2 separate regions of the Homo sapiens genome follow, and region 2 is linked to region 1. A link means that fine-mapping ties the variant in region 1 to the expression of a gene that starts in the linked region. Tissue or cell type: monocytes. Region 1 holds a variant in brackets; the other region holds the start of a gene. All regions are shown on one strand. Distances are from middle to middle.

What was found. PIP is the estimated chance that this variant, and not a neighbour inherited with it, causes the effect.
Region 2: LHFPL2 starts here. The variant in region 1 is fine-mapped to the expression of LHFPL2 in monocytes (TOPMed, PIP above 0.99).

What each region holds. Positions count from the first base shown.
Region 1 is chr5:78,509,238-78,511,992 of GRCh38, forward strand. LHFPL2 (LHFPL tetraspan subfamily member 2) reads right to left here. Exons shown (of 5, transcript NM_005779.3): 4 at 547-1,161. The coding sequence starts at 976. Among named protein-coding and RNA genes, the nearest start is that of LHFPL2, 140 kb to the right of the region's middle. RefSeq lists silencers at 745-834, 1,115-1,164 and an enhancer at 881-1,502. The variant C/G (reference allele first, on the strand shown) is at 1,272.
Region 2 is chr5:78,647,241-78,649,995 of GRCh38, forward strand. LHFPL2 (LHFPL tetraspan subfamily member 2) reads right to left here and starts at 1,532. Exons shown (of 5, transcript NM_005779.3): 1 at 1,259-1,532. RefSeq lists silencers at 781-840, 1,131-2,070.

The DNA of each region.
Region 1 (2,755 bases):
CTAAACACAGAGCAGCTGATACTAATTCCTTCCCAGCCCGTGTCTTTCCCACCCAAGCTGAAATCATCTGGGGGCTGGAGCTGAGAGTGGATGCGGAAAGCAGGCTTGCTGCTTCTTAATGAGCGCCCCCGCTTACATTCCTCTTAGCATAAAGTGCTTGCTGCAGGTGGGACTCACGCTCTCCATAATTCCTCAGGGAGTTGCACTGAAGTGGAGAGCATGCTTTTAATTTAATGGGAAAAACAAAAAGCAGGAGTAGTTACTCAAACTAAAACCAACAGCTTAGACCCCGAGGAAATAAGCAATGAGGAGGACCACGTAAGACCAGAGAACAAGCCTGTCTTCCTGTGGGGTAAGACAGGGGAAAGAGACCCATGCGAGCAGCACACAAACGTCGCCTAGAACGGAAGGGGCAAAGGAAACCTGAATAGACAGAAAGTGGTCTTCTCCAAAACTAGCAGGAAGCGAATGCCCAGTACCAGAGTGCGCTGCACCGGCAGCTCTCCATCCCTCCATCCCACCGTGCCCGGGGTCCTGCCTTCTTACCTGCAATTCCTTGCAACAGCCCACAGACATTGAAGATGCTTTTCTTCATGATGCTCTGTACACACATGGTGAAGACGGACACCAAGGCCACCATGCAGAGAATAAAGATTCCCACAGCCAGGAAAATAGCTGTGGCCTGCCAGAAGCCGCTGGCGATCTCGCCGAAGCTCTCGGCGTAGGGCCCGCACAGCGTGTCCCGCTGGAAGTGCTGCACCCCTGGGTTCCGGATGCAGCGGGCGTAGATGCCCAGGGTGGGGTGGTAGGGCTCCGGGGAGCCCCCGCCCGGGCCCGCCGGCTCCACGCCGCCGCGGCTCCTCGCTTTCCCGATCAGCCAGTCTGCACTCATGAAGGCAATGAGCTCGGCAAAAGCCACCACAATACTCAGCAAGGTCCAGAGCATCGAGCGACAGGTGACAATGACATGACACATATTGATGTTCCGGGCGAAGAAAGAGTCAGGAGTCCACGGAGTTAATCAAAACAAGAAAGTCGGTGGGGAAGGAGGCTCGGGCGGCCCGGGAAGGAAGTCGCAGCTGCAGTCATTCACTCCCGCCGCCGGCCGCGTTCATGCTGGGGACAGCGCTCCCGGACCCAGAGCACCGCCTGCGGCCTCACCTAGGGGAGAGGGAGGGCGGTTAGCAGCGCCGCCAGGCCCCGCCCCGCCTTCCCGCCGCGCAGCGACACCGTCCAAGTCCGGCCCGTGCCCGCAGAACCCTGCCAGCAAG[C/G]CCCGGGCCTGGCTAGCATGCCAGGCGGTTGTTGCACTGGCTGCGTTTGTTTCAAGTTCTTCCTGACCTCACTGCACTTAGAACTCTATGTGGCAGTTAACCTTATCTCTAGGGAGCACCATGGAAGGAGGCGGCCAGTGCCAGGTCCTGCTCCCAACCCAGGGGGCACTGTCCTGGTTGCTGCTGCACTTTTAGGACAGGGCTCCCGCTCCCTCATCTTTTACTGGAAAAAGTCAAACAGCACAGGGATCCAGAGAGGAGGAGGCAAGACTGGCAATCAACTCTATTAGTGGATGTTTTGTTTTGTTTTTAAGTTTGCAAGACTTTTTGCCTGCTGTTTTGGTACTAGGTGAGCTAAGTTTTGAGAAACTTGGACCAAGCGCTTTTGCTTAACAGTAGAGAGTAGCAACACCCCGCTTTTATTTCCTCGAAATTAAATTACTAGCAGAGACATAAGTGTGTTTGCTTCATAGGTAAATAGGAAAGAATCACATGTAAAAGAATAAACAAAACATTGCTCCCATACCTATACTTTATCCATTTTTCACAGGGTGATTTTTAGACAAAATAATTTACACTAATTAAAACTCAGAGGGGAAAAAAAAAAAACCTTAAGAGTTCATGACTTACTTGGGGAAATTATTTTTAAAAGACATTAATGACCGTTAACTAAGCATCATTACAACTGAGTGGACTTGTTGACAACAGAACCTTGTCTATGAAGAATGCATCCCTTGAATTGTCCCAATTCATCCCATGTGCCTCTGCCTAAGCTTCGATTCACCCCAGGTCGGGAACTCAACATGCCCATTGTTTCTCATTTCACAGAGGCCTCATTCTGTCTCCACGGAGGAATGACTTCATTACCAGAAGACATTGCTCCAGTGGCTCAAGCCTTCTTCAGAGGAGTCTGGACCCTGAAATGGGGGCCAGCAGGGCTGGTTTGCAGCCCCATTTTCTGCCCCATTCCAAGGCCAGGAACAATCACATAGCTCACATCTGGGCACATGGCCCTGCTCTGAATGATTAGATCTCATTAACCGAGGTCAAATCAACTCCATGAGAACTGCAAAGAGCCCCCTGGCATGTTGGGAGTGGGGTGAGGCAGGGAGTTATCGAAGAGGAAGAGAAGCGGAGAAATAAGGAAGCCCAGTGTCAAAGCTTAAAATGCCCGTTTCTACACCCTGCACCAGCTGTCTGCCTGCTGGCTGACTTCCTAGTGAGCATGTGACTCTACCCATCCCTTGAAACATGATGTATTTTAAAATCCTCATATCATGGTAGTTGCTATACAAGATGCTATTTTGGGGACACAGCTAGTGCACTACTAGGAACATATGCACTTAATTGTCAGGGTGTGTGTGCGTGTGTCACAGCGCTGTGCCAAGCACTGGGTAAGGGAAGGGAGTCCATCAGGTATGGGTTCCAAAGCCAGCTCCAGCACTGACCATATGGATGCCTAACTTCTCAGAGCTCCCTCGTCT
Region 2 (2,755 bases), 140 kb after region 1:
TTAAATTTAAAAAGGAGTAGTTTCTAAAAGAGAACCAGTAGGAAAGAATCAGGAATACCAGCAAAAGTCAACATCAAAGAAGTCAGTATCTGATCCTCTCTTAAACCTAGCAGGAGTGGAGCTCTCTGGCCAAGGGGTAAGGCAAAAGCAATGTGCAGGTTATAAATGTCCCTTCAAGCTCAGTTACTCCGGTTTACCTCTCTGGGGTGAGCCTCTAACAGCTCTGGCTCGCCGGAATCTTTCCTCCCTCGGCTCCAGCACACACTTTCCATAGCGGCCGCGTTGCAATTTCAAAGAGTTCTCCTTTCCACGTAGGTCACCCACCGATGGTAACCTACATGCACAAACACACTCGCACAATCACAACAGAGAAAATGGGACATACAGGAAATGGCCCGGGTGGAGGCGAGGACGGGGGTGGGGATAGGACTTTGTCTTTACTCTGGTGTTGCTCCCATTGAAACAAGCACATGGACTTTCATGGAACTCATGACCATCCTGAAATAACAGAAAAGTCGAACGGGATTGAAGAAAATCCTTTGCTTTTCTAAGTTCGAAGAACACTGGGCCGCTGAATGGAAGGGAAAAGAAAAAAAAAAACTGTGTGCCTAAAAACATCCAGAAACACACGCAGAGTCTCCCCAGTCCTTTGCCCAGCCCGTGGGCTCAAGCCGCCCATCCCAGATGCGGTCTTCCCCACTCCACGCCCACCTCTTCCAGCCCGCACCCCAAATCACTGAGCTGCCCACAAAAATGCAGTCCAGATTTGAGAAGCAGCTGACGTCTGTGGCCAGAGTGACCCACACGCCACGGACCAGGGACAGCAGGGGCGACCACGGGGCGGCCCCCAGGGAGCGGTGCCAGGCGCGCTGGAACCCGGCGCCCAGCTGCGCCTGGGACCCACGCGCCGCCGTCCGAAGCCCGCCAGCGACGCCCAGAGAGCAGGGCTCGCGCCGGCTTCCCGAGGAGACGCTGTTCCCGGCACAACTTTTTTCCACTTCTGCGGCCGCCGGCGGCGCTGAGAAGCAGCTGTTCCCTTCCCATTCCCAGCACCCAACGCCCATCCCGCAGCACCTCCGACCGCTCGGCGCGGTCTCCCAGGGCGCCGAAGCGAAGTTCCCGCGCCAGCCGCGGCTCAAGCAGCCAGGGCTCGGCCGGCCGCAACGGCTCCCCATGCGCCCGCGCGGGGCGCCCACCTGGCCGGGCCCACCGGCTCTCCCCTCCCGCAGCGCGCGCGGGCCCGACGCCTGCCACTCACCCGGCCCCAGCTCGGCGTCTCCGGCTCCGAGCCCGCAGCCTTCCCCAAGTCAGGGCTTTCAGTGACGCCTCCTCGCAGCCACCTCGCTCTTGCCCCCGCTGGCCGCGCCTGGAAGAAGGAGGCGGGAGGAGAGCGAGAGGAGAGCGGGAGGAGGCGGCGGGAGAGGGGGGCAACGCAAGGGAGGGGAGAGGGTCCGCGGCGCGGGGGAGGAGGCAGCGAGGCGAGAGAGCGCCAAGCTCGGCGGCCGCCCGGGCTAGCACTCGGGGAGAGGGAGGAGGAGGAGGGGCGGGGGCAGCGAGAGAAAGAGGCGGCCGAGCCGCCCTGCCCAGGCCCCGGCCCCGCGCCGCTGCCCAGTCACCATCGCCGCCTCCGTCCCGCGAGCGGGCCGGGCGTCCGGGGGAGGGGTCGGGCTCGGGGCTCCCGGCGCGGCGCGCGGGGCGGGACGGGGGCGGCGGGCGGGCGGACCAGGCCCGGCCTCCGGAGGGGAGTGTCCTGCGGGTCCGGGAGGGAGTCGGCGACAGGGGATCCCCGAGAGGGGGTGTGGGGGCCTGGGAACCGGTCCCTGAGCCCGCCGGGCAGCGGCGGCGGCGTCTCCCGGGGTCCTGCGAGGTTCCTCCGGGCCGCACCGGGGAAGCTCCCGGAGCAGCTTCGAGCAGCCCTGCCGGGAGGGCCGGAGGCGGAGAGCGGCGCTGACGGAGCCGGGGGAGAGAGGCCAGGCTGCTCCGGCGGAGAGCGGGCCCCGGGGCGCTAGGAGCAGTTCCCCCAGACCCGGGCCCAAGCGGAAAGAACGGCCGTCTGGTGACCCCGGAGAGTCCGAAACGGGAAAGGGGCCAAGGGGCGCCTGGACCCCCATCCTCGCCGCCCTCTTCCGGAGAGGAGGCTCCGGACATAAGTTCCCGTGCCCTCTGAATATCTAGGTGTGGAAACTCAATTCCAACAGTCACAAAGATTATTCCTAAATAGAATGCTTGGTGTCCTCAGCTTCCCTGCCCTCAAAATTACGGTTTCAGGATGATTTTCGGAGGCGCTTTAGGAACAGCCTGAAAAGGCATTCTTGTCCAGAGAGGGGATGCTTTAACTCCCCAGCTCCGCCCCCAGGGCTGGGAGCAAAGAACAGAGTTAAATGGCCATGAATTCAGGTGCCAGTATTGTTTGTGATTGAACTGTTAGGACGTGGCACCTCTCTAGGCAAACCCATCTTGTATTCCACCCCTCGCCACCCCCCCGCCCCCCGCCCAGTCAAATGCTCCCATTCCCAGTTTCTCAGCCCCTTGTCTGGGACACCTCTATCCACCAGTCGCCCAGATTCAGATTAGCAGTCAATTTTGGGCCTCGCTCCTCCACTCCCGGTAGCCAGTCCCATTAGTTCTTCATTTTTAATGCCTTTCCAGGTGCCATGTCCTTTCAAGCCCACTGCCGCCTTTCTGGTTCTCGCTATCTGGCACTGGATGGCGTGAGCGGCCTCCTACCGGTTCTCTGCTGGGGTCCTCTCTACAC